Regions from separate parts of the Homo sapiens genome. Here all the other regions are linked to region 1. Evidence: fine-mapped expression QTL. A gene starts in region 1. Each other region holds a variant in brackets. All regions are shown on one strand. Distances are from middle to middle.

Region 1 (8,128 bases):
CTGAGGTGGGAGGATCACCTGAACCGAGTTTGTGTCACTGAACTGCAGCCTGAGAGACAGGGTCACACCCTGTCTCAAAAAAAAAAAAAATGTATTTGCAACTATGGCTTGCTCCTTTTCATCACAGGTATGCTTTATCTAAAGCAGCCTCCGCCTTCCCTCTCACCAACTGTCTTGTTACCCATCTAGCTTCTTTTTTTCCGGGGGGGGGGGGGGTGGTGGTACAGAGTCTCACTCTGTCACTAGACGAGTGCAGTGGCACGGTCTCGGCTCACTGCAACCTCCGCCTCCTGGGTTCAAGCGATTCTCCTGCCTCAGCCTCCCAAGTAGCTGGGATTACAGGCACGCACCACCACGCCTGGCTAATTTTTGTATTTTTAGTAGAGATGGGGTTTCACCATGTTGGCCAGGCTGGTCTTGAACTCCTGACCTCGTGATCCGCCCACCTAGGCCTCCCAAAGTGCTGGGATTACAGGCGTGAGCCACTGCGCCTGACCACCCATCTAGCTTCTTTATAGCATTTGTCACTACCTGACACTACCGTATGTATCTCCTTTATTATGTTTACACTTTTATTGTCTCGACTCCCGATTTGAATGTACATTCTTTAAGATTAGGGATTTGTTGAACTTATTTGCTGCTGTAAATACAGCCTGGCAGGCAGCAGGTGCTCGTTAACGTTTGTTAAAAATAATGTGTGAGCAGGCTGGGCGCGATGGCTCACGCTTATAATCCCAGCACTTTGGGAGACCGAGGGGGCGGATCACCTGAGGTCTGGAGTTCCAGACCAGCCTGGCCAACATGGTGAAACCCCGTCTCTACTAAAATGCAAAAAATTAGCTGGGCGTGGTGGCGCGCGCCTGTAATCTCAGCTACCCGGGAGGCTGAGGCACGAGAATTGCTTGAACCAGGGTGGTGGAAGTTGTAGTGAGCCGAGATCGCCTCACTGCACTCCAGCCTGGGCGACAGAACGAGACTCTCTCAAAAAACAAACAACAAAAAAAGTGTGAACAATCACATAATAACTGAACCACCTTTTCCCGAATCTGCAAAATGGAGACCATGACGGTGATAAATCTACCCCACAAACTGGCTGTCAGAAATTAAGTACAACCAGGCCGTCATAATTTTTTACTCCCACTCTGATGGCACACGAAAAAGGAAATCTTTGGAAGTCAGGCGCCGAACGAGTCTGTGAGGGCCCTAAACCCAGCTGGCTCCGGGATGGCCGCCGCTGCCGGGAAGTGGGTTCTGACAAATGACAAACAGCAGAGGGAGCCTGACCCCGGGGCGGAGGAGGAAGTGGGCCTGACAGAAAAAGGAGAAGCTAGACCCCTGGACTTGAAATATGAAAAATAAAAAGCGCAGCCCTTGGCTTCGCTCTCTAGTGAGGCTTTGGGAACCCTGCCGGAGTCGGAAGGAGTAGACGGAGAGAGAAAAGGGCCTCCTCACACACCCTGGACCCTTGGCCCACTCCTGCCGCGCCCCCGCCTCCCACGACTGGCACCCCCGGGCCGCCCCAATCCTTCAGCAACCGGTCCCCTCCCCTCGCCTCCCTCCTTCTCGGGCCCCAGCTTCCTCTCTGCCTTCCGCCGCCCGCTTCTCTCGGCACACACACGGTTTCTCTCTGCTCTTCGCAATCCCCGCTGTCTCCCCACACCGTGGATCGAACCCTCACCGGCATCTTGGCGGCGCCCGGGTTTCAACCCAGAGGAGCAGGATCCAGGTACAGCGGAGCGCTTCCGGTCTGGCAGCCTGGGCGAGGTAGGCGGAAGCGAAACGGAAGGGGCGGGTGCGGACGTGGAGCTTCCGGCCTTGCAGTTCCGCTTCTGGTTGCAGCGGCCGCGCGGATCTGAAGGAGGCGCCAGAGCACTAGGCAGGGGCCTTGAGTGGTGCAGCGTGAGGCAGCGCCCAGAATGGAGATGGGTCTTGAGGTTCCAGAATCTGAGATCAATCACCTCTTTTGTATTTTTTTCAAATGTCACCTTTTCAGGGCCGGGCATAGTGGCTCACGCCTGTAATCCCAGCACTTTGGGAGGTCGAGGCGGGTGGATCACCTGAGGTCAGGAGTTCGAGACCAGCCTGGATGGTGAAACCCCGTCTCTACTAAAAATACAAAAATTAGCTGGTCGTGGTAGCATCCCAGCTACTCGGGAGGCTGAGGCCGGAGAATCGCTTGAACCCAGGAGGCAGAGGTTGCAGTGAGCCAAGATCGCGCCGCTGCACTCCAGCCGGGATGACAGTGTGACTCTCTCAAAAAAAAAAAAAAAAAAAAAAAAAAAAAATCACCTTTCCTGTGAAGCATTCTCCGTTCATTCTATTTTCAGTTCACCCAACTCCAGCCCCATGCCTTATCCTTCTCTCCCGCTTTTTCCCTTAGTTCTTACGATTCTTGTATTTAGTTTACTCTTAGTGCTTGTGAATGCCAAAAAGGCAGCACTTCGTCCGTTTTGTCACCTGCGCCCGTAACAGTGACGGTATGTAGGAAACATCAATATTTGAGTGAATGAATGAACCCAATGCACTGCATCTAAAAATGGAGAAACTGAAGGGCACTGGACTCCAGGTTTGAATCGCAGCTCCAATACATACTAGCTCTGTAATTTTGAGCAAGTTAACTGGCCTGTGCTTCAGTTCCTCACCTGAAAATGGCAGTAACAGTATTTACCTCATAGTTTTGTGAGGATGAAATGAATTACATGTAAAATGCTTAGAACTTACATGCTTGGAGCATACTGAAAGCCCAGAGTTTTAACTTATTTATTACTAGAAAACTTCTTATGTTAAAAGTCAAGTTCATTGCTGCCTGAGAGCCATTTCTTCTGCCAGTTCCCAGCCTGAAATAGGACCCCATGTTCCCACATCTGATTTCACATTCAGCTGACTGGGCAAATAGCACCTTTTAGGCAAGGTCTTTTTTGACAAAGAGCCCAAAGTAGCCCCATAATCACTCTCCATTTCTTTTCTGCTTTTCTTTCCATCCTCTCTCTGAGGTTTCCTTCCTCATGGTCAGTCTCACAGGCCCAGCATGGCAGCCCCACGTGAGCAAGGCCCTGCCTGCACTGTGCATCCCTGTTCTATCCCCAGTGTCTGGCATCCACGGAACTTCAGTAAATTTGTGTAAATTTACTGAATTTCTGTCAGCCCTGCCTATGAGACAGTGAAATCCTCGAGGACTGGAATTGTCAGATTCATCTTTGAAACCCCAGTGTCCAGTGGGGAAGGCACTGGAATCGGGTCCTTCACTTTTTCTCCACAGGCACATACCATACTCTCTAGAAGCTAAACCAGGGAGGACCAAGGAAGAGGGCAACTGAAAATCTGCCTCTTCTTTCTTCCCCTCCCATGTGACAATAAGTTTCTAAGAATTAGCAACCCTGGGAGATCAGGCTGTTTCCACACTATCTATCCTCTAAGGGCCACAGGAAGGTCCCCAGGCAGCCCAGCACATCCCCATGTTGCCCACTCATCATGCTCCTCCCTGAGTGGACCATGGGGTAGACACCCGACCCTTCCCTCTAGCCTGGCCCCCAGGCATAAGCTACCACCGATACTTACAGGTCCTCACATTTTTTTTTTTTTTGAGATGGAGTCTCACTCTGTTGCCCAGGCTGGAGTGCAATGGTGCGATCCTGGCTCACTGCAACCTCCACCTTCTGGATTCAAGGGATTCTCCCACCTCAGCCTCTCAAGTAGCTGCGATTACAGGCACGCGCCACCACGCCCAGCTAATTTTTTGTATTTTTAGTAAAGACAGGCTTTCACCATGTTGGCCAGGTTGGTCTTGAACTCCTGACCTCAGGTGATCCACCTGCCTCGGCCTCCTAAAGTGCTGGCATTGTAGGTGTGAGCCACCACGCTTGGCCACATTTTGCTTAATTAAAATGAATCAAATTAGACACTGCAGTGTACTTGTTATCTAGGTCCAAGAATCATTAAAAACCTTTGTTTCTTTTATATATACACATACATATCTCAAAACATAGTTATTTTTACTTTTTAAGTTATATAAATAATATACATTTTCAATATAGGAAAATGGGAAGATACAGATAAGCAGTGGTCTTATATATATCCTTGCAGCTTTTTCCCTTCGGACATACATATTTTGTTACAGTAATTCCTGCATCTCAAAAATAATACAAAAAGTGAAAATAAGTTTAGACCAGCCTTAACCTTAGCTCAGGTGCTAATTTATATATAAATCTATGTGCATTCATTTCAATTTTGACTTACAAAATCTAAAGTGATGCTGTTATAATACTAAAAGATTCCACTTTAAACAGCAGCAGTTTCAGAATAATTAAAAATTTGATTCAGGCATGAGGCTGATAAAGAACGAAGTTTTACTTTTTTTCATTAAAATAAGTAGCTTTCTACTATTGCATCCTTTGAAGAGAAGAATGTTCTGCTGGTTTGGCCACAAGCTCTTTAGATGGTTACTTTTAGTAAACTCTTCATTCATCCTGGCATTCTTGAAAATATTCGTCAAACATAGAGGAAGACTCATCTTCACGTTCCTGACACAATGGAAACACAAAATAGAAAATATATTCATTTCCCCTCAGTCAGAACTAGTATGTGTTTATATATTTTTCAGGTAATACCCTATGTGGAACTAATTACCCAGCACCAGCTCCAGGTGCTGCTTATAGGTAACTGTTAATAGTAAGAAAAGGCATGATTGACAGATTTTTTTCCAGTTATGTAGTAAATTAATGTGCTTCTATCCCAGAAGCATTTCTCATTTGAATTTACATTCAAGACGATTCTTGGCTAATTTCCTGTGATAGTGCTTTACTTCGCTGGTAGTCTAGTGGTCAGGAAAATAAAAAATAAAAAAATAAAAAAATGCTTAGCTGATACTATCATTAGTCTTCTCAATGACATACGTGAGGGCAGCCCAATTTCACCTCCTCTTTACACATACACCCAAGCTCTAAGTACACACAGGCTTCATCATACTGCCTCAACAAAAGTAGAGTAAAAGTGATACTGCTTGTGGAGTACAGTGTTAATTTCAGAGATCACCCAGAAAAGCCCAGTTAACTGCCATCAATAAGACAAAAAACTAATTTAAGGAGTCGCCTGGATTATGCAAGAGTCCAGTGAGTGCTGGCAAATATTTTTATCAAAAGCTAACAAACACCCCAAACCAGAAATTACCTTTGGTTCTTTAAATTCTAGGTCTTCTCCATATTGAATGGCAAAATCAATATGCTGCAATACAATGTTCATGCTTTCTTCATCTGACTGATCGTAAGGTAAAAATCGAACCATGCTGTAGTCATCAATCTACAAGTTGTGGATTTCAAGAAAAGTTCATTCTGAAGTTGTGCAAAATACATAATTTTCAACTTATATTTGAGTTTTATAACCATTTGTACTTCTGAATAAAAACACTGATGTGTTTACAGGAAGAGGAGGAGAAGGGATAGCTAGACACAGAGAGTAAATCATTGATTTTTCTGACTTCTGATCTGCTAGAACACTTGTTAGCTTATTACTTTAACTAGACACTGTTTCACGGCTATTTATCTGAATTCAACAACCACTGGAAATTTCACAAGAGAACAAACAGTCCTGAACTCTCCAAATGGCTTGAAATAATAAGATGTTAGTTTATTTATTGGCCACTACCAATAACTACTTCTAAATTAAACTGCTGACTGACCAGCCCACAGCCCTTTTCCCTCCACTTTGCAGAAAATAGGGTTGAACTGTGCTTTTTATATGGCAAATGACTGGACACAGGCAAACACTTGACCAGGTGTTTAGGAAAAAAACCCAAAAAACTTCATCTTTTTTTTTCTTTTTTTTTTTTTTTGGGGAGACAGAGTTTCGCTCTTGTTGCTCAACCTCCACCTCCAGGTTCAAGCAATTCTCCTGCCTCAGCCTCCTGAGTAGCTGGGATTACAGGTGTGCCCTACCATGCCCGGCTAATTTTGTATTTTTAGTACAGACGGGGTTTCACCATGTTGGTCAGCCTGGTCTTGAACTCCTGACCTCAAGTGATCCACCTGCCTTGGCCTCCCAAAGTGCTGGGATTATAGGCGTGAGCCACTGCACACCTGGCGCCCTTTTTGTTTTTGTTTTTTTTTGAGATAGGGTTTCTCTGCTGCCTAGGCTAGAGCACAGTGACATGATCTGATCATGGCTCACTACAGCCTTGACCTCCCAGGCTCAAGGGATCCTCCCACCTCAGCCTCCACAGTAGCTGAGACTACAGGCGTGCAGCACCATGCCTGGCTTTTTTTTTTTTGAGACAGAGTCTTGCTGTTGTTGGACCGGGCTGGAGTGCAATGACAAGATCTCGGCTCACTGCAACCTCCACCTCCTGGGTTCCAGCAACTCTCCTGCCTCAGCCTCCCGAATAGCTGGGATTATAGGCATGCACCACCACGCCTGGCTAATTTTTGTATTTTTTAGTAGAGATGGGGTTTCACCATGTTGGCCAGGCTGGTCTCAAACTCCTGACCTCAGGTGATCCACCCACCTCGGCCTCCCAAAGAGCTGGGATTACAGGCGTAAGTCACCGCGCCTGGCCTAATTTTTTTTTGTTTTTGAGACAAAGTCTTACTCTGTCGCCCAGGCTGGACTGCAGTGGCATGATCTCAACTCACTGCAACCTCCGCCTCCCGAGTTCAAGTGATTCTCCTGTCTCAGGCTCCCGAGTACTAGGATTACAGGCGCACACCACCATGCCCAGCTAATTTTTTTTTGTATTTTTAGTAGAGACAGGGTTTCACCATGTTGGCCAGGCTTGGTCTTGAACTCCTGATCTCAAATGATCAGCCTGCCTTGGCCTCCCAAAGTGCTAGGATTACAGGTGTGAGCCACTGCACCTGGCCTAATTTAAAAAATTTTTTTAGAGATAGGGTGTCACTATGTTGCCCAGGCTGGTCTTGAACTCCTGGACTCAATCTTGCTGCCTTGGCCTGCCAAAGTGCTAGGGTTACAGGCATTAGCCACTGCACCTGGCCAAAAAATCCAAACTTTAAAAGCTTACCAGTCCACATATAGCTTTAGTCAGTTTCTTGAATTTTTTGCTTCTTAAGTCACTTGTAGAATCTTCTAATAAAGAATACATGTCTGGATCTAAAAATCTTTAAAAGACAGAAAGACTGATGAATTCAGGAGACTAGGTTTATAAACCAGCCAAACTTCCCATCTAAATAAAACAGAAGGTTCATCTCTGCAACTGAGATCTGATAATAATGGAAGAACAGTGAACTCACTTCTCAATTTCCTTTTTTGCTTTTTTACTCAGCAGATCCATTTTTGTCATGATGTTGACTTGCGGAATTTCTAGAGAGATCATGGCACTCAGGGCTGCCAAGATGCCAGAAATAAACTGAAGGAGGAAACAGAAAAGGGAAGATGAACTGACTGTTGCCAACAGTTACCTGGTCTGCATAAAGAGTCTTCTATTCCTCACTGGAACAGAACTGGCCTAAATAAAAGAAATGCAAGCTGGACGTGGTGGCTCATGCCTGTAATCCCAACACTTGGGGAGGCTGAGGCGGGCAGATCACCTCAGGTCAGGAGTTCAAGACCAGCCTGGCCAACGTGGTGAAACCTTGTCTCTACTAAAAATACAAAATTAGCCAGGCATGGTGGCATGTGCCTGTAATCCCAGCTACTCAAGAGTCTGAGGCAGGAGAATCACTTGAACCCAGGAGGCGGAGGTTCCCGTGAGCCAAGATTGCGCCACCACATTCCAGCCTGGGCAACAACGGCAAAACTTGGTCTCAAAAAAAAAAAAAAAAAAAAAGAAATGCCAGTTCAGAACATGTGGAAAAGGCAAAATTATTTATATTTTATTAAAAGTAATGCTAGCCATATAGAAAAAAATGTTCCCAAATCATTGGGAATCAAATGCTTGATTCTTGGTTCCCAAAGGTGAGGGAAGATATAGATAACATACAGTGATCACAAATTTCAATTTAGACAGCATTTTAATTTCCTTTCCCATCTAATATTCCTTAAGAGCTATTAATAAAAAATTTGATCTTGGTAGTTCATAAACTGGACAAAAGGTCCTCAGAAAATTAAAAATAGACTATTTTATAAAATAGCCATCTGCTTCAGTTTTTTCTCCCCCACTACTTCCTCTTTTTTTTTTTTT
Region 2 (8,128 bases), 590 kb before region 1:
CACACAAGATTTCCCCTTGGGTAAGCTGCCCCCATAGACATCTGGCCCGCACGCTGGGTGAAAAGCACCCTACCGGCATCTCCTGCTCCTTCCTGCCCTCCAGGAACAGCAGGGATAAGACTTGTAACAATAACTATGACTGTTCACATGAGCCAGGATTTGCAAAATGCTTTACAGGCACTACCTTATATGATCCTGGTGGCAAACCTGATGTTGCTGTCATTATCCCATTTTACAGGCAGAGACACTGAGGCTCACAGAGGAGCACGGACTTGCCCAAGGTCACACAGTTGGTACAGAGTTCATGTTCTCCAGCCACTACTGACACTGCCTCAGACACCAAGTATCTGAAGTTTTGCTTTGGTGGACAAGTGGAAATAGGTTCCGAGGATTCCAAGAAGTCCAGGAACGAAGGCCTCTGAGATGGAGCCAGGTAGGCCTGGGTCTGAATCCCAGCTTTGCCACGTACTTGCTTGTGACCTTAAGCGAGTCCTTCAACCCCTCTGAGTCTCAGCTTCCTCATCTGTAAAAAGGGGATAACACAGGACCAGCCTCAAAGGGCTGCTGGGATGAAGAAATGAGATCATGCAGTGTGTCCCAAGCCCTTGGCTGGGCCCTAGGTGGATTCTCACAGGCAGTCTATGGCTGGGGAGGCGGCATCAGGAACTACCAGGATTGGAGAAGGGGAAGGCCAGACCAGTGCTGACTGTAGACTTTGGAGCTTACTTACTTGGTGGGGATAGATGAAAGAACCAGCAGGTTCCTTCTCAGGGTCAACCCTTTAATTAGACTTTGGTTCCAGTCAGGCTAGACTGGTGACCAGATGGCAAGACTGTGGAGGAGGGCAGAGAACATTGAGCCCTGATTGGACAAGCTTGGGGCCCATCTTCCATGTCTCCATTCCCTTCCTTGGGGTGGGAAGCTTGCAGCTGGGACCATGATGCTGGTAACCCAGGTGGGCTTAGATTCCTAACGCAAGTCTTGGGCTGTGGCTGCCCGGCCAGGTACATACCGTGATGTTGCCGCTTATGTCTGCCTTGATGGGAGTAAACACTGGGGACCCAAGGCAATCTGGGGACAAAATGAGAAGACAGATTGAGATTCGCAGCAAGAGTGATTTTTCAGGGCCACCGCAGGCCATGGGGACATGGAAGGGTGGATTACATGGTGTGTCCCGGGGAGAGCTGAGTTGTTCTGGATGTTACTAAGGCAGCATGGGCTTGGGTGCAGCCCCCAGCTCTGTTCTCTCAGCTTCCTGTTTCCTATCTGGCAAATGAGGCTACAGCACCAACCACAGAGGCATGATGAAGATGGCTTGAAATAAACAATCCAATCCTAAGACACACATTTGATTCATCTCTAGAATCAGAATGGTATTTGTTTGTTCTTTGAGGTTTATCTTGAGACAGGGTCTCGCTCTGTCACTCAGGCTGGAGCACAGTGGTGTGATAATAGCTGACCACAGCCTCGACCTCCTGGGTTCAAGCCATCCTCCCACCTCAGCCTCTGGAGTAGCTGGGAATACAGGCACGCACCATCATACCCGGCTAATTAAAAAAAAATTTTTGGCCTGGTGCAGTGGCTCACGCCTGTAATCCCAGCACTTTGGGAGGCCGAGGCGGGTGGATCACTTGAAGTCAGGAGTTCAAGACCAGCCTGGTCAACATGGTGAAACCTTGTCTCTACTAATATACAAAAATTAGCTGGGCGTGGTGGCTTGCGCCTGTAATCCCAGCTACTCAGGAGGCTGAGGCAGGAAAATTGCTTGAACCCGGGAGGTGGAGGTTGTAGTGAGGGGAGATCACGCCACTACACTCCAGCCTGGGAAACAGAGCGAGACTCTGTCTCAAAAAATAATTTTTTTTTTGCACAGATCTTGATGATCAGGATCTTGTGTAGACCTAAGCTAATGTGTCTGTTTTTAACAAAAAAGATTTTTTTTAAAAAAAAGTACTTAACTTTTATAATAGAAAAAAGCTCATAGAATAAGGATATAAAGAATTTTTTTCTAGAGCTGTACAATGTGTTTTTTTTTAATTGTATAAAACATTTGATTTATTGGTCTTTGGGGGAATTTGATGCATCACCACTATATTAGAACTGAGCCATTAATTTTGTAGCTTCATCAATATTAACTACTTTATTTTCATGATGCTGCTGAGGAATCAGTTCTTTCTACAGAGGTTCAAGAGAAAGTCCTTTTAAGAAGTGTGCAAATCTCGTATATTTATTAGATTGGTGCAAAAGTAATTGCAGTTTTTGAATACAAAAGCTTTATCTACTCTGTTGACTTTTTCATCATTCATAACGTTTAACTTTTTTTTCCCCGAGACTTTTTGCTCCCCTTGCCCAAGCTGGAGTGCAATGGTGCAATCTCAGCTCACCGCAACCTCCGCCTCCCAGGTTCAAGCGATTCTCCTGCCTCAGCCTCCCGAGTAGCTGAGATTACAGGCACACGCCACCATGCCCAGCTAATTTTGTATTTTTAGTAGAGATGGGGTTTCACCATGTTGGTCAGCCTGGTCTCAAACTCCCAACCTCAGGTGATCCGCCCGCCTCAGCCTCCCAAAGTGCTGGGATTACAGGCGTGAGCCACTGTGCCCAGCCTCGTTTATCTTCTTAAGACTAGTGGTAACTGGTTTTGCTTTGTTGGTAGCCTTAAAGTGTTTTCAGCTGGCTATATGAAATACACTCCTGGACTCCTGCCCTCTTAATTTGTTCTCGCCATTGTCTTCAATAGTAGCATGCACCTATGTGTGTTTTTAAAGACAGGGTCCTTTGGCAACTGAAGAAAGATAAATAAAAATAAATAAATGCATAAAATAAAGGCAGGGTCTTGTTCTGGCACTCAAGCTGGAGTACAGTGGCAAGATCACAGCTCACTGCAGGCTTCAACTCCTGGACTCAAGCGATCCTCCCGCCTCAGCCTCCCAAAGTGCTGGGATTAGAGGGATACACCATCACACCCAGTAGAATGTTCTTAAATGGAGGCGTTTTCCTTTCTTGGTGGGTTATAATATGTCGGAGCATCATATAATAGGTAACACCTTGGAGATGATAAAATGTAGACCTGGAAACTGCCTGGCAGTGCCTAGGACTGCTGGGATCTGCTGAAATGTGAGCAGCCTGCTGCCTGCCTCTCCTCCTCTCCCTCTTTTGTCACCCCCATGGCAGGCTGTCACAGGACATCTTGCCCCTTACATGCAGGAAGTATGCAGGTTCTTTACTGAGCAGGCTAGATGTGGACTTTACCTTTGAGCCTGAAGACAGATTACCGGGCTTCCATGACACCTTTTCATTGTCCTTGTTGCGGTCCAGAAAAGTGAGCTCACTAAGCCTGCTACAGAGCCCAGGGGACAAAGACCCCAGAGCAGGCTAGAGGTGGGTGCCAATCCCACGGGAGTGAAAGGCCAATACCCAGGAGGCCAGACAGGGACCTCAGTGTGGGCACCAAGTGACCGCATGAGGGCAGAAGGCTAGGGGTGGAACTTCCTTAAGCCAAATTCCACCCAGGGTGACCCTGCACACCTGGCCAGCCATCTGGAACATTCTAATTGCAGCTATGAAAAGAGGTGCATGAGAGAAACAGCATTAAACATTTAAGGAAACAGCCCATAGCCCAATGGAAAGAAGGTGGGCTAGGGATTCAGCCAGACAGGGTGAGAATCCTGCACGACCACTCCCCAGCCAAGCAAGTCTCCTCGCCGCTGTGTGCCTCAGTTTCCTCTTGTGTCAAATGGGGCAATAGTAGTACTTATTTCATATGCTTCTTTAAGAAATTAAAAATAAGGCACCGAGGCCAGGCGCAGTAGCTCACGCCTGTAATCCCAGCACTTTGGGAGGCCAAGGCGGGCGGATCACAAGGTCAGGAGTTTGAGACCAGCCTGGCCAACATGGTGAAACCTTATCTCTACTAAAAATACAAAAATTAGCCGGGCGTGGTAGCAGGTGCCTGTAGTTCCAGCTACCCAGGAGGCTGAGACAGGAAAATCGCCTGAACCTGGGAGGCAGAGGTTGCAATGAGCCGAGATTGTGCCACTGCACTCCAGCCTGGCGACAGAGCAAGACTCCACCTCAAAAAAAAATAAGGCACCAAACACATGTAGCAGAGTGCCCGGTGAGTGGTGAACACTCAGTACCTGAACTTCAATCATTTTTATGACCTCATATCATTACTAGGGTCATGTGCTGTGACCCAGCAAATGACATCATCGTGGAAGCCACAGGATTCCCCAGAACCTCCATCGAGTGGGACTCATCCTTGACCTGTGCCCCTGCTGCTTTCTCTGTGCTCCCCTGTGAGGCCCCGCTAGGGCTGGGGCTGCCACCTTGACCTGCTGCAAGCTCCGGGCATGCTGTCGTCATGCTAGGCCACGAGCAGTCTCCTCTCGGCAACTGAGCCTCTTTCCAACGTCTGCAGAGGCAAATCTCCCAGCAAGGGGCCATGCTGGAGCCTTCCCTAGGGTGGTCACGTCAGAGGCTGCTCAGAGGTGCTGCGCCAGGGGTGCGGGCAAAGAATCCAGGGTGCTCTGGTCTCCCAGACAGGCCTGCCAAGCATCAATGGGGTGACGACTCCATGCCACCCTTTAACCTCACCTGATGGATCACTGACCTCCGCTGCGTGTAGAGGCCAGCCTGGGGAGGTCATGCCACTTGTTAGCCCTGGAAGGTATTCTCTTCCAGCACTGCTACTGCTGCCTCTCTGAAAGGACCGTGCATTCTCAACTTACATAATAACGCCGGAGCCAAGATCCTCTTTCCTCTGCCAGTGACTACAGTGCTGCCAGGGGGTGCAAATTCCAACCCTCACAGGGGGCCAGGCAGGTGCCATGGATGGGCTACATGGGGACTGGCAAAACCCATGCAGACGTATGGCTGTTCCTCAGCTCCAGCTGACGGCTTTACATCCTCATCTTCCCAAAATGTATAATGAGCTGGACGTGGTGGCATGTAACTGTAGTCCCAGCTACTCAGGAGGCAGAGGTG[G/A]GAGGATCGTTCAAGCCCAGGAGTTCAAGGCTGCAATGAGCTATGATTGTGTCACTGCACTCCAGCCTGCGCAACAGAGTGAGACTCCATCTCTAAAAAAAAATTAAAATGTGGGCCAGGCGCAGTGGCTCACGCCTATAATCCCAGCACTTTGGAAGGCCGAGGCGGGTGGATCACCTGAGGTCAGGAGTTCAAGACCAGCCTGACCAACTTGGTGAAACCCCATCTCTAATAAAAATACAAAAATTAGCCAGGTGTGGTGGTGCATGTCTGTAATCCCAGCTACTGGGGAGGCTGAGCCAGGAGAATCACTTGAACCCAGGAGGCAGAGGTTGCAGTGAGCCGAGACTGCGCCACTGCACTCCAGCCTGGGCAACAAGAGTGAAATTCCATCTCAAAAAAATAAATAAAAAATAAAAATGCATAATGTCCAAAGGCTTACATTAGACTGATGGATGGATGGACAGAGATATGGATAGATAGGCACAGTAAAATATTAATGGTAACATCTAGATGATAGGTGTATGAGTACTATTTGCTGTAAAATTCTTTCAGCTTCGCCACATGTTTGAATTTTCTCATAGAAAATACTGAAAAAAGTAATGTCAGGTTTTTTTTCTGCTCATAAAATCCTATTTCTTTTTCTACTTTTTCTTTCAAGTCTGTTTTACTGTTACAGTGATCATAGTCACATGTGTTACACCTTTGTTTTTTAAACCAACAATCTTGCCACCAGACTTGAGCTCTGAAGAGGGCAGGGACAAGGTTCCCTGCTATGCCCCCAGCACCCAGCAGATGCCTGACCCCAGTTGGTACTTGTATGACATCTGTGGAATGAATGAATGAGTGAATGAATGGACTGTGGGAAACGTGGAATCTGTCAGCGTATTTCCCTGCCAGGCTCTCCATCTCTGTACCCTCCTATGGTTCAGACTGACCCAACACACTGGTTTTAAACACCTATCCAACCCAGATGACAGAGGATATGTGAAGGGACTTTGGGCCTCAGTTCCCCTGTTTATAAAACGGATATCCTTCTAGGATGTTCTTCTGCAGGGCTGCTGTGAGAGAGAGGTGTCACACGTGCAAAGTGAGGGCTCAAAGCACTGACCACGATTGTTTTTACTGCCACTGGCTGGTTTTCAACCAAAGCCTTCCAGTGAAGAAGAGATGACGGCAGGGCCTGATGACAGATCACCATCGACCATGGGTGGCTTATTAGCTTTTCTTAATGACTCCGGTCATTCAACATGCATTTCAGAGATGCAGAAAAATGTTATGCAGCATCCTTGTGCAGTTCTGAGCAGCCCTGCCCTGGTGGCAGGGAGAAAGGCTTTTTGTTTTGTGTTCTCCTAACCATGAGCTACGAGGGTCACGAGGCCACCATGGTCAGCAGAAGCTGGGCCCCAACAGCAGCTGTTATTGTGTGTGGGGCCACCACACAGGGCCAGAGCTCCCGCTCAACAGTAGGGGAGGAATGTGGGGCCTCAAATGCACTTCTGGGGCTGGGAGCCTAGCAGAAGAGAGGGGAGGCGAGGCAGGGGCTGGGAACAAGACCCCAGACTACTTCCATGCTCTACCCACAGGGAGCCACCAGCAGGAAAGGCAGCTCTGTATGCATCTCTGTGTTACATAAACAAGCACGCTGAAGTGGGTTTGGAAGCATCTGGAGGTGGGCTGCCTGCAATTAGCAGTGGCGTCAACCTGGGCAGTGGCACTGAAGCAGTGGCATCCACAGTCCTGGGTTTGAATCTCAGCTCTGGTGTGAGTTTGGCCAAGTGACTTAACCACTCCAGGTTCAGGCCCTTCGGTTTCTACAGCCCAGAGGTGCTATGCAAACAGGAAGTGCTCTGTATATGGTTGGGCTGAAGCCTGTTTCAACATCACCCACCCAAGGCTCTGGGCTTATGTTTGCCTTTGGTGCAGTCCAAGGACATCAAGTCACAGAAAAGCCAAATGACTTGCCCAGGTTACACTCCAGGGAGTGCCAGGAACTCAGACACAATTCCAGAGCCAAAGCTGCTTCCACTACACCCTTAACCTTTCTGTCTAGAATGTTACCATTCTTTGAACTCAAAGAATGTTTCTTTGAGGTCCTGTGAACTCAGAGAAAATAGGAAACCAGAAGACGATTTTAATTCCCAAGCATGTGGTGGCTTTTCTAATAGTTTATTTTATTTATTTACTTATTTTATTTTATTTTATTTTTTGAGGCAGAGTCTCACTCCGTTGCCCAGGCTGGAGTGCAGTGGCGCAATCTAGGCTCACTGCAACCTCCACCTCCCGGGTTCAAGTGATTCTCCTGCCTCAGCTCCCCAGAAGCTGGGATTACAGGCGTGTGCCACCGCACCCAGCCTCTAAGAGTTTAAATTCAAGCCTGTGCCTGCTCTGAATACAGCATGACATGTTTCTACCAGGCTCTCAAGCCTTCCCTTTCCTACAGAATGCAGCCTTAACCCCAAATTACCCTTCTTGTTTGACCAGTTTTGCAGTTACTCCAAACTTGTTTTTTTCAATTGTTGTCAGCAAACAGCCTCTTTGAAATGCCACCCAGAACCTGTCTGCCTGGAGGGAGGGAAGGGACTTGGAGGGTTTTCTAGTTCATGACCTTCAGGGAGAAAGGAAGCTGTCTTTTAAACATTTTTTATTTATTCTTCTTCTTCTTATTTTTTAATAGAGACAGGGTCAGGCCGAGCATGGTGGCTCACGCCTGTAATCCCAACACTTTGGGAGGCCGAGGCGGGCGGATCACCTGAGATCCGGAGTTCAAGACCAGCCTGACCAACATGGTGAAACCCCCATCTGTACTAAAAATACAAAAATTAGCTGGGCATAATGGTGCACATCTGTAATCCCAGCTACTTGGGAGGGTGAGGCAAGAGAATCACTTGAACCTGGGAGGCGGAGGTTACAGTGAGTTGAGATTGCGCGTGAGATTCTGTTTGAAAAAAAAAAAAAATAGAGACGGGGTCTTACTATTTTGCCCAGGCCAGTCTCCAACTCCTGGGCTCAAGTGATCTGCCAGCCTTGGCCCCCTCAAAGTGCTGGGATTACAGGCGTGAGCCGCCATGCCTGGCCTGAAGCTGTCTTTAAAAAAAGAAAAATCAGATGTGGTCCCACCATCTTCTTTCACAGACCCAAC
Region 3 (8,128 bases), 29 kb after region 1:
CTCGCCTAATTTTTTTGTATTTTTTTTAGTAGAGACGGGGTCTCACTGTGTTAGCCAGGATGGTGTCTATCTCCTGACCTCGTGATCCACCTGCCTCGGCCTCCCAAAGTGCTGGGATTACAGGCGTGAGTCAACGCGCCCAGTCTTGTCATCCATTCTTGACTAAATCCATTATGATTAAGATGGCTAGAAATATGTGCTTTTTCTTTTTTTTTGAGACAGAGTCTCCCTCTGTCGCGCAGGCTGGAGTGCAGTGGCGCAATCTCGGCTCACTGCAAGCTCCGCCTCCCGGGTTCATGCCATTCTCCTGCCTCAGCCTCCCGAGTAGCTGGGACCACAGGTGCCTGCCACCATGCCCGGCTAATTTTTTGTATTTTTAGTAGAGACGGGGTTTCACCATGTTAGCCAAGATGGTCTCAATCTCCTGACCTTGTGATCTGCCCACCTCTGCCTCCCAAAGTGCTGGGATTACAGGCGTGAGCCCCCGTGCCCAGCCATATGGACTTTTTCTAATTCCATCATTGATTCTACATTTTTCAGATGGCTTTCTAATGAAGAGCTTCCCTTTCTCTACCATTTTTCAATTTATATATTTATTATATAATTGTCAACACATGGATTCTTATACCATTGAATAGGTTAAATACTTTACTTTAAATCTGTTATTTATTTTGATGCTCAAATTATCCCAGATTTGGCCAGTGGGAGCCCTTTAAAGATGGCTCTTGTTCTCTGTCTCCATTATCCTTTGAAAACTTTTATCTTTTAGCACAAAACGTTGTACTGTCCCTGTTCTACCCTTGATGTCTGCCATTTCTCCAAAGAGCCTGTGGTAGGCAGCATGGTCCCCAAAGATGTTCACACTCTAATCTCTCTAACCTGTAAATATGTTATGTTACATGGCAGGAGCAATTTTGCAGGTAAAATTAAGTTATAACCCTCAAAAGAGATGTTATTTTGAATTTTCTGGGTGGGCCCAGCCTAGCCCAAGGCAGAGGAGTTTCTCTGGCTGAAGTCAGACAGATGTGGGGAAGAGAAGCAGTTAGATGTGAAAGGAGAGATCTTAACACCCCATTGTTGGCTTGAAGATGAAGAGAGCCACATGTCAAGGAAATAGGGACTTTGGTTTTGTAAGGAACTGAATTCTGCCAACAACCTGAATGAACCACTACAGGCTCCAGGCACCCCAGTCCAGCCCAGGCACCCCGATGCCTTGATTTTGGCCTTGTGAGATTCTAAGCAGAGAACCCAGTGGATTCATGTTATACTCAGTCTTTTGAGCTATAGAACTATGAGTCAATACGTGAGTGTTGTTTTAAGCCGCTAAAGTTGTGTTGTTATGGCAGCAAAATGAAACTAACATAGAGCCCCTTTTTAAAAAATTGTATATATTTAAGGCCGGGCGCGGTGGCTCACGTCTGTAATCCCAGCACTTTGGGAGGCCGAGGCGGGTGGATCACGAGGTTAAGAGATCGAGACCATCCTGGCTAACACGGTGAAACCCCCGTCTCTACTAAAAATACAAAAAATTAGCCGGGCGTCGTGGCTGGCGCCTGTAGTCCCAGCTACTCGGGAGGCTGAGGCAGGAGAATGGCGTGAACCTGGGAGGCGGAGCTTGCAGTGAGCCTGGGCAACAGAGCGAGACTCTGTCTCAAAAAAAAAAAAAAATTATATATTTAAAGTAGAGAAGAGTACGTAGAAACCAAGATCTGGGTGCTAGGTGTGCTTATTTATAATATACTTTCATTGCTTCTAGACTTTCTCCGAGGACAGTGCTGGGAAAGAAATGTGTGTGCATTTACCTGTGAGCACATACATACCCATACATATCTATTTCAATATTTCTACTAACTCCAAATTCCAATCCAACAAACAGGGTTTATTCTGTGCTTTCCTCTTTCCATATTAATAGGTAACTCGTCTCCAAAAGTGTGAGACCTGCTTATTAACTACAATATATTATTTGCTTCGTCCTAAGATGTATAAAAAAGTAGTTTCTAAAGTGCTAACACATGCTTCTGAAAAAAAAAAAAAAGAAGCCTAGTAGGCTGGGCGCAGTGGCTCACGCCTGTAATTCCAGCACTTTGGAAGGCTGAGGTAGGTGGATCACGAGGTCAGGAGATTGAGACCATTCTGGCCAACATGATGAAACCCCGTCTCTACTAAAAATACAAAAAATTAGCTGGGCATGGTGGCGCGTGTCTGTAATCCCAGCTACTTGGGAGACTGAGGCAGGAGAATCACTTGAACCAGGGAGTTGGAGGTTGCAGTGAGCAGAGATCGCGCCACTGCACTCCAGCCTGGCGACAGAGCAAGGCTCCATCTAAAAAAAAACCCAAAAAAAACAAAAAACAAAACAACAAAAAAAAGCCTAGTAGTTAATTAGAGATCAGTATTTGCTTAGAGTTGTTTTTGTTTGAGGGCATATAGTCCAAGCAGTATATTCAAAAGTTCTTGGGTTGGTTAACTATTTATTTGTGGTAAAATATACATAATATAAAATTTACTATTTTAATCTTTTTTTTTTTCTTTGAGATGGAGTTTCGCTCTTGTTGCCCAGGCTGGAGTGCAATGGCTCGATCTCGGCTCACTGCAACCGCTGCCTCCTGAGTTCAAGCGATTCTCCTGCCTCAGCCTCCTGAGTAGCTGGGATTACAGGTGCACCCCCACCACGCCTAGCTAATTTTTTTTTTTTTTTTTTTTTTTTTTTTGAGATGGAGTCTCACTCTGTTGCCCAGTCCGGAGTGCAGTGGCACGATCTTGGCTCACTGCAAGCTCCACCTCCCGGGTTCACGCCATTCTCCTGCCTCAGCCTCCTGAGTAGCTGGGACTACAGGCGCCTGCCACCATGCTTGGCTAATTTTTTTATATTTTTCTAGAGACGGGGTTTCACCATGTTAGCCAGGATGGTCTCGATCTCCTGACCTCGTGATCCGCCCGCCTCGGCCTCCCAAAGTGCTGGGATTAAAGGTGTGAGCCACCACGCCCAGCCTAAGGGTTTCACCATGTAGGCCAGGCTGGTCTCAAACTCCTGGACTCAAGTGATCTGCCCGCCTCAGCCTCCCAAAGTGCTGGGATGTATAGGCATGAGCCAATGCACCTGGCCCATTTTAATCATTTTTAAGTGTACATTTCAGTGGCATTAAGTATATTCACACTGTTGTGCAACCACTACCACCATCCATTTCCAGAAAGTTTTCATCTTCCCAAACTAAAACTCCGTACCTATAAAACACTAACTCTCAGGTGGGTGCAGTGGCTCGTGTGTGTAATCCCAGCACTTTGGGAGGCTAGGGCTGGAGGATCGCTGGAGCCCAGGAGTTTGAGACCAGCCTGGGCAACATAAAATTAACTTTAGTTTTTTTTGTCTCTAAAAGAAAATTTAAAAACAAAATAAAAAACCACTAATTCCCTATATACCTCCTTTCCCCTGACCTCTTGCAACCTCCATTCTTTCACTCCGTATATATTTGATTTTCCTAGGTATCTCATAAAAGTTAAATCATACAATATTTGTCCTTTGTGACTGGCTTATTTCACTTAGCATGTCTTCAGGGTTCATCCATATTGTACCATGTGTCTGAATTCTCTTATTTTTTTAAAGCTAAATAATATTCCATTGTTTGTATATACCACATTTTGTTTATATATTCACCTGTTGATGGATACTTGGGTTTCTTCCACTTTTTGGCTATTATGAAGTAATGCTGCTATGAGCATGGATAAATAATCTGTTTGAGTCCCTGCTTTCAGTTCTTTTGGAATTGCTGGATCAGAAGTGGAATTATTAGATTATATGGCAATTCTATGTTTAAATGTTCGAGGCACTGCCATACTATTTTTCTTTTTCTTTTGAGTCAGTCTCACTCTGTCACCCAGGCTGGAGTGCAGTTGCAGTAACTCAGCTCACTGCAACCTCTGCCTGCCAGGTTCAAGTGATTCTTCTGCCTCAGCCTCCCAAGTAGCTGGGATTACAGGGGTGTGACACCATGCCTGGCTAAGTATTTTGTGTGTGTGGTTTTTTTTTTTTTTTAGTAGAGACGGGTTTCACCATGTTGCCCAGGCTTGGTCTCGACTCCCAACCTCAGGTGATCTGCCTGCCTCAGCCTCCCAAGGTACTGGGGTTATACAGGCATGAGCCACCATGCCCAGCCTATTTATTTTTAAGTGCTTCATTTTCTGTAAAGAAATGTTATCAAGCTATTGAGAAATTAAGTGTTGGTCCAAAATATAATATGCATCTCAGAAATATTGTTTATTAAGGACACAATTCATATTCTTATATAAATAGCCTCTGTTTACAACTTGAAAAAGGATTTCCAAAACAAAAAACTTTTAAAAATCTTAAATTGGCATTCATATTATTACAGATTATAAGTTATGTTTCAAGGGTCATAATACAATTTCCAAATGATTTTCCATTTCTTGGTCAACTAGTTAGTCCTTACCTGTAGTATCCAACTTGCCAAAATCTTGAAGAAATAACTAAATTTAAAGTTTAATACAAAACTGAAATAGCCTGTTATTAATAATATTGAAACAAAAATGTGCTTATTGAATTCAACTAACTATATACTT[T/TC]TTTTTTTTTTGAGACAGAGTCTCACTCTGTCACCCAGGCTGGAGTGCAGTGTTGCGATCTCGGCTCACTGCAACCTCCACCTCCTGGGTTCAAGAGATTCTCCTGCCTCAGCCTCCTGAGTAGCTGGGACTACAGGTGTACGCCACCACACCTGGCTAACTTTTATATATTTTTAGTAGAGACAGGGTTTTGCCATGTTGGCCAGGCTGGTCTCCTGACCTCAAGTGATCTGCCCGCCTCAGCCTCCCAAAGTGCTGGGATTACAGGCATGGGCCACCACACCCGGACGCAAACTTTTAACTTAAAATGTGTCTTTCCAGCTTTATTTGTAATAGACAAAAAGTGGAAACTACCCAAATGTCTATCAACAGGTACATAATCAAATAACAGTGTAAACATATATACAATAGAAGATAACCCAACAGGCCGGGCACGGTGGCTCACGCCTGTAATCCCAGCACTTTGGGAGGCTGAGGCGGTCAGATCACAAGCTCAGGAGATCGAGACCATCCTGGCTAACATGGTGAAACCCCGTCTCTACTAAAAATACAAAAAATTAGCCGGGCGCAGTGGCGGGCGCCTGTAGTCCCAGCTACTCGGGAGGCTGAGGCAGGAGAATGGCATGAACCTGGGAGGCGGAGCTTGCAGTGAGCCGAAATGGCGCCACTGCAATCCAGTCTGGGCAACAGAGCAAGACTCCATCTCAAAAAAAAAAAAAAAGATAACCCAATGATAAAAATAAATGAACTATTTGTTACATGTGACATGAGTGGATCTCAAAATCGTTAGGTTGAGTGAAAAACCAGACAAAAAATGAGTACTGTGTATTCCCATTTATATCAAACTCAAGAAAATGCAAATGAATCTATGGTAATAGAAAGCACATCAGTGGTTGCCTGGAGAAGGGAGTGTGCAGGGAAGAGGGATGTATTATTATAAAAAGAGACATTTCGGGGCCAGGCGCGGTGGCTCATGCCTGCAACCCCAGCACTTTGGGAGGCCAAGGCGGGCAGATCACGAGGTCAGGAGATCAAGACCATACTGGCTAACACAGTGAAACGCCGTCTCTACTAAAAATACAAAAACTAGCTGGGCGTGGTGGCGGGCACCTGTAGTCCCAGCTACTCAGGAGGCTGAGGCAGGAGAATGGCGTGAACCCGGGAGGTGGAGCTTGCAGCTTGCAATGAGCCGAGATGGTGCCACTGCACTCCAGCCTGGGCGACAGAGCGAGACTCCTTCTCAAAAAAAAAAAAAGAGGCATTTCGTGATTTAATTGTCAGAGACTATTTTTCCCAAAACTGCTAGTGAAGCTTATACCCTAAATTACTAGTCTCAGTATGTCTGAAACTGAAAACCAGTTCCCATTCTTCTGGGAATATGTTTCAACTTTTATTTTTTACTAAAAGGTTATTCTTTTATGCTGTCCACAACTGTTTTTAAAACAATGAAATACGCTGGGCATGGTGGCTCATGCCTGTAATCCCAGCACTTTGGGAGGCCAACGCAGGCGGATCACCTGAGGTCAGGTGTTTGGGACCAGCCTAGCCATCATGGTAAAACCCCATCTCTACTAAAAATACAAAAATTAGCTGGTAGTGCATGCTTGCAATCCCAGCTACTTGGGGTGCTGAGGCAGGAGAATCGCTTGAACCTGGGAGGTGGAGGTTGCAGTGAGCTGAGATTGTGCCAGCACTCTAGCCTGGGCAATAGAGTGAGACCCCATCTCAAAAACAAACAAAAATCAACAACAAAAAATGAAATAACTGAAACTATGTAAAAATAAATTTTGATAAATTTCTGCAGTCTTTCATGTTAATACTACATCTCCAAAGGGATAAAATTTGTGTTACTCTAGTCTAATACAGAATAGAATTTTAAGGCCGAGTGCAGTGGCTCACACCTATAATCCCAGCTACTTGAGAGGCAGAGGCGGGAGAATCTCTTGAGCCCAGGAGTTTGAGGCTGCAGTGAGCTATGATTATGCCACTGCACTCCAGCCTGGGCGTCAGAGATCCCATCTCTTAAAAAAAGATTTAAAAAACTATATACTAAAGTTAGGCCGGGCGCCGTGGCTCACGCCTGTAATCCCAGCACTTTGGGAGGCTGAGGCGGAGGATCATGAGGTCAGGAGATCGAGACCATCCTGGCTAACACGGTGAAACCCCATCTCTACTAAAAATACAAAAAATTAGCCGGGCATGGTGGCAGGTGCCTGTAGTCCCAGCTACTCGGGAGACTGAGACAGAAGAATGGCATGAACTGGGGAGGCGGAGCTTGCAGTGAGCTGAGATCGCGCTACTGCACTCCAGCCTGGGGGACACAGAGAGACTCCGTCTCAAAAAAAAAAAAAAAAAAAAAAAAAAAAACTATATAGTAAAGTTAAATGATAATAAAATATTACTGTAAATCATTAAAGCACAAATCCTGCGTGTATATTTTCTCTTTGGTATGTTTCTGACATGATGTTACTGTCAACACTTTGCATCTTAGCTGAGTTCAAAATAATGTATTATATATAAATAAAATATTTATTTACAAGTATCTTTGATGTTGTTTGTGTGCTCTAAAACCAAATGGCATACCATACAGTCTCTTCAAATTTAAGTCTGAGTGAAAATATTCAGTACTACTCCAGGATAATCACTGACACATGTAAATATCTAGATCTTTTTTTTTTTTTTAAGACGGAGTCTCACTCTTTCGCCCAGGCTGGACTGCAGTGGCGCTATCCTGGCTCACTGCAAGCTCCGCCTCCCGGGTTCACGCCATTCTCCTAAATTTTTTGTATTTTTAGTAGAGACAGGGTTTCACCGTGTTAGCCAGGATGGTCTCGATCTCCTGACCTCGTGATCCACCCACCTCGGCCTCCCAAAGTGCTGGGATTACAGGCGTGAGCCACCACACCCGGCCTAAATATCTAGATCTTAATAATTCAGTTTGTTGAACTGATCTTTGCCTCTGAAATTCACATGATGTCTTTGCCTACAGATAGAATCAAAGATGGATACAAAGTGAACTCACACATAGCTAAGCTGCAAGAGTTATGGAAAACTCCCCAAAATCAAACAATCCACCTCTCTAAATCAATGATGGAGGCGTCCTTTTTCAAGGTATGCTAACAGGGACATATTTAAATACCAATACTCTTTGTATTCAGAGCCGAACTTTTTACTGAAGATCAGCTGCTTAGAGGGTGAGATACTGCAGATGACAAGGCATATGCAGTATAATTGTCTAGGAGTCAATAAATATCTTTGAGTAAACTCATGAATGAATGTAAAGATTATACATTCTTTATCATAAGAGTTATTTCATGGTTTTATGATACTTCATATCTAATGTATCTTTACTGAGGGGAAGCTTAATGCCCCAACCACAGAGATGCTCAAGAAAAGTTCCATCTTTTCTTGAAAATAGAAACCCAACTTCACACATATTTTACTCAAGGACTACAAAATTAAGAAGAAAGCAGGTAAAGAAAATGGCAGTAATTAGCTTGCAAGTAGGATTTAAAAAAAGAAAAATAAATAAAAGAAAATGGCAATAAGG
Region 4 (8,128 bases), 100 kb after region 1:
AATTAGCCAGGCGTGGTGGCAGGCGCCTGTAGTCCCAGCTACTTGGGAGGCTGAGGGAGGAGATTGGTGTGAACCCGCGAGGCAGAGCTTGCAGTGAGCCAAGATCGTGCCACTTCACTCCAGCCTGGGCAATGGGGCGAGACTCCGTCTCAAAAAAACAAACAAACAAACAAAACCACACACAGTGGATTTTGAAAACTTAGTATGAAAAAAAGTAAAATCTCTTTGGGAGGCTGAGGCAGGTAGATCACCTGAGGTCAGGAGATCGAGACCAGCCTGACCAACATGGTGAAACCCCGTTTCTACTAAAAATACAAAAAATTAGATGGGTGTGGTGGCAGGCAACTGAAATCCCAGCTACTCAGGAGGCTGAGGCTGGAGAATTGCTTGAACCTGGGAAGTGGAGGTTGCGGTGAGCCGAGATCGCGCCATTGCATCCCACCCTGGGCAACAAGAGTGAAACTCCATCGCTCTGTCACCAGGCTGGAGCAGTGGCGTGATCTCGGCTCACCGCAACCTCTCCGCCTCCTGGGTTCAAGGGATTCTCCTGCCTCAGCCTCCCGAGTAGCTGAGACTACAGGTGCGTGCCATCACGCCTGGCTTTTTTGTATTTTTAGTAGAGAAGGGGTTCACCGTGTTAGCCAGGATGGTCTCATCTCCTGACCTCATGATCTGCCAGCCTCGGCCTCCCAAAGTTCTGGGATTACAGGCATGAGCCACTGCGCCCGGCCCCCAAAATCTCTAATTTTTATATTCATTACTTACATACTGAAATTGTATTTTGGGCCAGGCATGGTGGCTCATGCCAATAATCCCAGCACGTTGGGAGGCCAAGGTGGGAGAATCACTTGGGCTCAGGAGTTCAAGACCTGCTTGGACAACACAGTGAGTCCCTGACTCTACTAAAAATAAAAAAATTAGCCAGGCATAGTGGTGTGCACCTGTAGTCCCAGCTACTCAGGAGGCTGAGGCGGGAGGACTGCTTGAGCCCCAGTGGTTGGGGCTACCGTGAGCCATGATTACGCCACTGCACTCCAGCGTGGGTGGATCAGCAAGACCTGGTCTCAAAAAATGAAACAGAAAAAGAATATTTTAGATATAATGCACCAAAGAGAATGCATTATCAAGACTGAGCTCACCTTTCTTTATTTACCTATTTTTTTTGAGACAGAGTCTCGCTCTGTCGCCCAGGCTGCTGGAGTACAGTGGCGTGATCTCAGCTCATGGCAACCTCTGCCTCCCAGGTTCAAGTGATTCTCCTGCTTCAGCCTCCCTAGCTGGGACTACAGGTGCTCGACACCACACCTGACTTGCATTTTTAGTAGAGACAGGGTTTTGCCATGTTGGCCAGGCTGGTCTCAAACTCCTGACTTCAAGTGATCTGCCCATCTCGGCCTCCCAAGGTGCTGGGATTATAAGCATCGGCCACTGCATCCGGCCAAATTTCACCTTTTAAAAAATTAACTATTATTATTTTTAGAGACAGTGGCTTGTTCTGTTGTCCAGGTTGGAGTGTAGTGTTACAATCACAGCTCATTGCAGTCTTGAACTCCCAGGCTTAAGTGATCCTCCTACCTCAGCCTCCTGAGTAGCAAGGACTACGGGGTCATGCCACCACACCCAGCTAGTTTTTGTTTGTCTGGCAATACAGAGTCAGGATCTCACTGTATTGCCCAGGCTTATTTTGAACTCCTGGGCTCAAGTGATCCTCCTGCCTCAGCCTCCCAAAATGCTTGGATTACAGGCGTGAGCCACCATGCCTGGCCTCTTTTTATTTTTAGTTAATATGAATATTAGGAAATTTAAAATTACATATGTGGCTCACATTATATTTCTACTGGATAGTACTAGTATAGAGATTTTCGTAGGCCCAAAGAGTTGCTGATGAGTTCAGAGTCTGCTTAGAGCTCCTTTATCAAGAGGAAATTAGTGTTTATGAAAGTCAATAAAATATCAAAGCCATCATACAATCTTCTACTCAAACTCTTGCAAAACACCAAGCTATTCTTTCCAACACTAAAACCAATTTCTATCTACTAAATTCAAAGACACTGAGAGAAAATGTCAAAAATATACATTATTAAGGCTTTAAATGGCCTTTCTGGAAGGATCCATAAGAAATATTAGCAATGGTTGCTTTAGAAATAAGGAACTGAAAACGATCCATGAACAAAATGGGAATTTTTGCCTTTTACTTCATACCATTCTGTATTAATTTTATTTTTATCATGAGCATGTATCATATGATTTTTTAAAACAGGGATTTTTTAATTTTTAAAACTTTCTGAGCATGAAACATCCTTCCCATACACACATTTATTTTTTGTACATTCAACTTTAAGAATGTATTTGGTACAAAAGTAGCAGAGTGCCTATATATACATCCCTGAAAAATTGGCTTAACATGAATTGGACATGTGAAACTATTTCTCTGGGGATGGCAGTTAACAAAAAGAAAGGGAACACATCGTGAAAAAGTAAGAGGAAACAGAATTGGAAGACATAAAGAAGGCAACAAATAGTGTATCACCACTGGGACAGCAACTTTCCCCACCTATGTGACCAACCAATAAACCAAATTTCATGACAGGGCAATTCCAAATTAGCTAATTAAAGTAATAAAAACTCTGGGATTCGTTTCAAAATATTTAAGGGGTTGAAGGGGGAGTGACAGAAGCACAGATGAAAGAAGACTGGCCATGAATGGATCGTTGTTGAAGCTGAATAAGAAGAACACCCATCTCTCTACTTTGATATATATTTGAAATTTTCCATAACACAACATTTAAATAATAACAATGATAACAAGTTTAAAAAGAAAAAAGACCCTTTTGCCTGCTGTGTGGAGAGCAAGAGCGGAAGGAGTTTAAGTAAGAGATCCATTTCATAGTCCACTCGCAATCTGCTGGCAGTGTGGTTAGAGGCGTGCAGACATTTGGTATCCATGAAACAGAACACGTGGATTGAGGGGTGAGGGAAAGAGAAGCAACCGGGCTAACTAGGGATCTATCTTACAAGGAACAGCACATTTCATTGTTTTTCAAGGAGTTGTGAAGAGGTTTGGGAAACTTATATTAAAAGAATTTAAGATCATTTCAATAGGAACTTCTTTGGAGAAACTCTTATTTTACTAGGAGTAAGATTTCACCATAATTTAAAACACAACAATTTATGTTAAAACACAGAATATAATTATAAGCCTTGCAACACTATCTGATGAATCATTCATTCTTTTCAAACCACTGCCTGCTTCAGGGAAGAATTTCTTCTTAA[G/A]TAGTCTCTGGTACAACTACAATTAACTTTAAATACAAATTGGTTTCATCTGCAAATGCTCTTCACAAGAAAACCATTAAAATCTAAGATAACGTTTAGAGTTGATCCTCGATCCTCGCACTCACTAAATAATCTGTCAGCAGGTTGAGTCTGACCTGACACAGCCCTTCAACATTAATCAGATTTCTCCCAGAATACAGCACAACCTTTTGGGCACCTGTTTGCTTTTTTACACGGGCAAAGGATGCCAAGCAAAACACCACTGACCAAATCTCTTTAGGGGAGAGAGAAATTCAAAAAGCATATAAACTCTTCAATAAAGCTGCAGGGAAAAAAGCCTTAATACAGTGCATATATATAACTAAATTATATAAGGGGAAGAGTTGTATTTGGGATGAGAATCAGACTAAAACTAGAATAACCTACTACACGTACATATGAAACCTAATTTTATTCATATTAGGTGGTTGTTTCTACACAGAAATTAATATGTCCTCTATTGCATAAGCAAAAGCTTCAGACTGCAAAGAGCAAGAATACCCTTTAAACAGTGGAACTGATCCAGATATAAAGGGAAATTTCATTCAGAATACATGTCAAAGGTAAAGAAAACTGTTAAAGGAGAAATTGCTTAAGATCCCAAAGATGTCAGGAACACAACTATCAAACAGCAAAGGATAAGAATAAGAATACCCTAAGAGCAAATGGAGGCCACACGTGGACCACCACATTGTGCATGCTGCGCTAGGAAATAAGACGGCTGAGAAAGCCGGTCTCTGAGAAGCTCCCCTGCTAGTGGGGTGCTAGACTTCTCACAGAGAAACCAGACAAACGGCTCCCATAAACACTGCTGCAGGAGGGTCAACAGCCAGTGGTTAGTGCTTACGGACACCACGAGAATGCAGCGCCTCAAGAACAGTGCCAGCCTGCTCTGAAAGTGGCATTCGGATAGGCCCTGGCAGGGGTCAGCCAGATTTCCACGGCAGGGAAGGATAACAAGAGGAAAAGAAAGGCAGACAACTAGATGCTGGGGCTTGGGTGAGCAGGGAGAAGCTGAAAAATGAAGGGCAGTAGCGAAAGTTGTAGAAAATCAAGAATGCCAGTTCAAGAACTCTAAAGTTCTTTATGCTACTGACCTGTGCTGTCTAACATGGGAGCCACTAGCCACATGTGGCTATTGAGTCTAAAATCTCACTTGTTTGGATTGAGAAGTGCTTGCTATGAAGTGTAAAATACATTCTGGATTCCAAAAACTTAGTACCAACAAAAGAAAAACTAAAATGACTTAGTAGTAGTTTTGTTTTCTTTTAAGAGATGGGGTCTCACTCTAGCCCAGGCTGGAGTAGTGGCCTGATCATAGCTCACTGCAGTCTTGAACTCCTGGGCTCAAGTATTCCTCCCACCTCAGCCTCCTTAGTAGCTGGGATTACAGACACACCCTGATACACCCCGCTACTTTTTTTTTTAAGTTTTTGTAGAAACAGGGTCTCACTATGTTGTCCAGGCTGGTCTCAAACTTCTGGGCTCAAGCAATCTCACACCTTGGCCTCCCAAAGTGCCGAGATTATGGGCATGAGCCACAGGATCTGGCCAAGTTTAACACATATATTAGGCATACTCAAGAGGTTAACAACGATAATAAAACAGAATAATTATAACAATATACTATAATAAATGTTGTGTGAATGTGGTCTCTGTCTGTATTATTGTTAGGTAATGTGGGTATATTAGTCCATTCTCATGCTGCTATGAAGAAATACCTGAGACTAGGTAATTTATAAAAGACGGAGGTTTAATTGAGTCACAGTTCTGCATGGCTGGGGAGGCCTCAGGAAACTTACAATCATGGCAGAAGGGGAAGCAAACACATCCTTCTTCACATGGCAGCAGGAGAGAGAAGTGCTGAGCAAAGGGGGAAAAGCCCCTTATAAAACCATCAGATCTTATGAAAACTTCACTATCACAATAGCAGCATGAGGGTTTATGGGGATTATTATGGGAACTACAATTCAAGATGAAATTTGAGTGGGGACAATGCCAAAACACATCAGTGGGTAATTGAAACCTCAAATAAGAGGGAACTACTGTTTCTGGATTTGGGGAATTAGAAAATATTGATTAGATTATTCTACAGTTGGCAAGGGTGTGTAAATGCCTTTAAAAGACATTTAATTCTGTCTTGGGTATGTCAAACTTCAGGTGCCAGCAGGGCATCTTTGTGGAAGTGTTGTGTATAAAGTGAGGAACTATGAGTTTGCGGCTGGCAAGGCAAGTTGGGGCCAGAAAATCTGAGAATTGATACCTTAGTGGTAGGGTATCCAGTTTGTCAGAATGATATAATCTCTATGGAGGTAGAGAGAAGTGAAGCTAAAAAGGAGGCTGAATTAATGACTAGAAGGGCCTTGAATGCCAAGATAAAGAGGTTGCACCGAATATAGAAGCTATTTCCTTTAATTCACTGTAATCATCTTATGTCTCCATTAATAACATTCTGTGAGCACACATCTAGCTTAAGTGTTTCCCTTGACCCAAAATCCAATTAAAATCACTATTAGATTAAGATAATGGTTACATATCAGAAATAGCTGAGCAAAAGATTGAGAAGAGACCATAGGGCACAGAAAAATCCTTTAGTGTTTTTGTTTGTTTTTGTTTTTTGAGACGGAGTCTCGCTCTGTCGCCCAGGCTGGAGTGCAGTGGTGCGATATTGGCTCACTGCAACCTCCGCTTCCCAGGTTCAAGTGATTCTCCCGCCTCAGCCCCCCAAGTAGCTACCACGCTCCGCTAATTTTTTGTATTTTTAGTAGAGACGGGGTTTCACCGTGTTGGCCAGGATGTTCTCAAACTCTTGACTTCATGATCCGCCCGCCTCGGCCTCCCAAAGTGCTGGGATTACAGGTGTGAACCACCGTGCCCAGGCTAGTTTTATCTTTTCAATGGAAATGTCAGTTTTATGAAGCAAAACGAGCAATTAGAAAATAGTTACAGTATTTATGTTTTTACAAAGTATTTTATTAAGTTTTCCATAGACTGATGCTTTTTCCCTTTTTCTTTTTTTAACAGCATCCTGCTCTGTCACCCAGGCTGGAGTGCAGTGGTGCAAACACAGCTCACTGCAACTTTGAACTCCTGGGCTCAAGGGATCCTCCCACTTCAGCCTCCAGAGTAGCTATGACTACAGGAATGCACCAACACACACAACTCATTTTTTTAAAAATTTTTTTTGTAGAGATGCGGTCTCATTATGTTGCCCAGGCTGGTCTCAAACTCCTGGGGTCAAGTGATCCTCCTGCCTCAGTCTCCCAAAGTGCTGGGATTACAAGCACAAATCACCATGCCTGGTTTCTACAGTTAAGAGTTAAAAAGGGAAGCAAAAAGAGTAATTCTGGGTGTCTGCCATCATTAAGTGTTTATAAGAAGAAAAAAATTTTTTTTTTTTTTTAAGAAATGGGGTCTCGGGCCCAGCGTGGTGGTTCACGCCTGTAATCCCAGCACTTTGGGAGGCCGAGGTGGGCAGATCACTTGAGGTCAGGATTTCAAGACCAGCCTGTCCAACATGGTGAAACCCCGTCTCTACTAAAAATACAAAAATTAGCTGGGTGTGGTGGTGCGTGCCTGTAATCCCAGCTTCTTGGGATGCTGAGGCAGGAGAATCACTTGAACCTGGGAGGTGGAGGTTGCAATGAGCCAAGATTGCATCACTGCACCCCAGCCTGGGCGACAGAGCAAGACTCAGCCTCAGGGGAAAAAAAAAAAAAAAAAAAAGAAATGGGGTCTCACTCTGTCACCCAGACTGGAATGCAGTGGTGTAGTAATAGCTCACTGCGGCCTCAAACTCCTGAGCTCAAGAGATTCTCCCATTTCAGCCTCCTGAATATCTGGGACTACAGGCATGTGCCACCATACCCAGCTATTTATTTTTTGTAGGGATGGGTCCTCGCCATGTTGCCCAGGGTGGTCTTGAACTCCTAGGCTGAAGTGATCCTCCTGCTTCGGCCTCCCAAAATGCTAGAATTACAGGAATGGGCCACTGAGCCCAGCCAAGAAGAAAATTCTTAAGCAATTTTCATTTTTCTAATTAACATGTTTTTGTCTTTGCCAAAATGGTATAACCATGTAAAATGGTAGTTATGACCAGGCGTGGTAGCTCATACCTGTAATCCCAGCATATTGGGAGGCTGAGGTAGGAGGATTGTTTGAGCCAAGGAATTCGAGACCAGCCTAGGCAACATAGCAAAACCCGTCTCTACAAAAAAATTTAAAAATCAGCCAGGGATGGTGGCACACACCTGTAGTTCCAGCTAAACAGGAGGCTGAGGGTGGGAGGACTGCTTGAGTCCAGGAGGTCAATGCTGCAATGAGCTGTGATCACACTACTTGCACTTCAGCCTGAGCGACAGAGCGAGACCCTGTCTCAAAAAATAAAAAATAAAAAAAGGTAGTTATAACCAAATGATAGCTATCTTAAAAATCCTATCTTCCCAATTACACAGTCACCTAACTGTGTAATTGCAAAAGGCTTACTATAAGAAAGACTTCTGAACTAGTCAAAATCAGCAAGAGCGTCTCCAGTCCTGTCCTCCATTAACAGCCATCAACATGATGTTGCAATTATTTTAAACCCCTCCTACTGCACTCATCTTCAGACTGACATGCAGTTACCTACAAAGCAAACGTTTTCTAGAAGAACGCGATGCCTAGAGAATAAATACTAAACTTCAATTTTAATATAAGCATCAATGAAGAAAAACAATTTGATTTTGTCCAAAAATGTATTTAATGTACACTCTGGAAGAATTTCAAATATTAAGTAGTATCCAAAGGTAATAGCTTTATTCCTTGCATCTTTGATGAT

Which allele goes with the higher level. Positions count from the first base shown, and alleles are read on the strand shown. Sizes are in standard deviations (SD) of each study's normalised expression. Not every link is listed here.
For the expression in monocytes of the gene that starts at base 1,761 in region 1, allele TC in region 3 goes with a higher level than allele T (moderate effect, 0.47 SD a copy in BLUEPRINT).

What was found. PIP is the estimated chance that this variant, and not a neighbour inherited with it, causes the effect. A credible set is the group of variants that fine-mapping cannot tell apart.
Region 2: its variant is the best candidate, but not a certain one, in a credible set for the expression of ARPC3 in whole blood (INTERVAL, PIP 0.74).
Region 3: its variant is the best candidate, but not a certain one, in a credible set for the expression of ARPC3 in monocytes (BLUEPRINT, PIP 0.71).
Region 4: its variant is the best candidate, but not a certain one, in a credible set for the expression of ARPC3 in monocytes (TOPMed, PIP 0.62).

What each region holds. Positions count from the first base shown.
Region 1 is chr12:110,448,577-110,456,704 of GRCh38, forward strand. ARPC3 (actin related protein 2/3 complex subunit 3) reads right to left here and starts at 1,761. Exons shown (of 7, transcript NM_001278556.2): 1 at 1,679-1,761. The coding sequence starts at 1,684. It overlaps GPN3 (GPN-loop GTPase 3), which reads right to left. Exons shown (of 8, transcript NM_016301.4): 5 at 7,239-7,354; 6 at 7,010-7,106; 7 at 5,167-5,295; 8 at 3,910-4,520. The coding sequence ends at 4,458. RefSeq lists enhancers at 317-1,169, 1,875-1,974.
Region 2 is chr12:109,857,671-109,865,798 of GRCh38, forward strand. GLTP (glycolipid transfer protein) reads right to left here. Exons shown (of 5, transcript NM_016433.4): 2 at 1,013-1,071. Among named protein-coding and RNA genes, the nearest start is that of GLTP, 19 kb to the right of the region's middle. The variant G/A (reference allele first, on the strand shown) is at 4,987.
Region 3 is chr12:110,477,511-110,485,638 of GRCh38, forward strand. FAM216A (family with sequence similarity 216 member A) reads left to right here. Exons shown (of 7, transcript NM_013300.3): 3 at 7,568-7,689. The region is part of intron 1 of LOC124903016 (a long non-coding RNA gene); the gene reads right to left. Among named protein-coding and RNA genes, the nearest start is that of FAM216A, 13 kb to the left of the region's middle. The variant T/TC (reference allele first, on the strand shown) is at 4,579.
Region 4 is chr12:110,552,713-110,560,840 of GRCh38, forward strand. All of the region lies in intron 1 of PPTC7 (protein phosphatase targeting COQ7), which reads right to left. Among named protein-coding and RNA genes, the nearest start is that of PPTC7, 27 kb to the right of the region's middle. The variant G/A (reference allele first, on the strand shown) is at 3,274.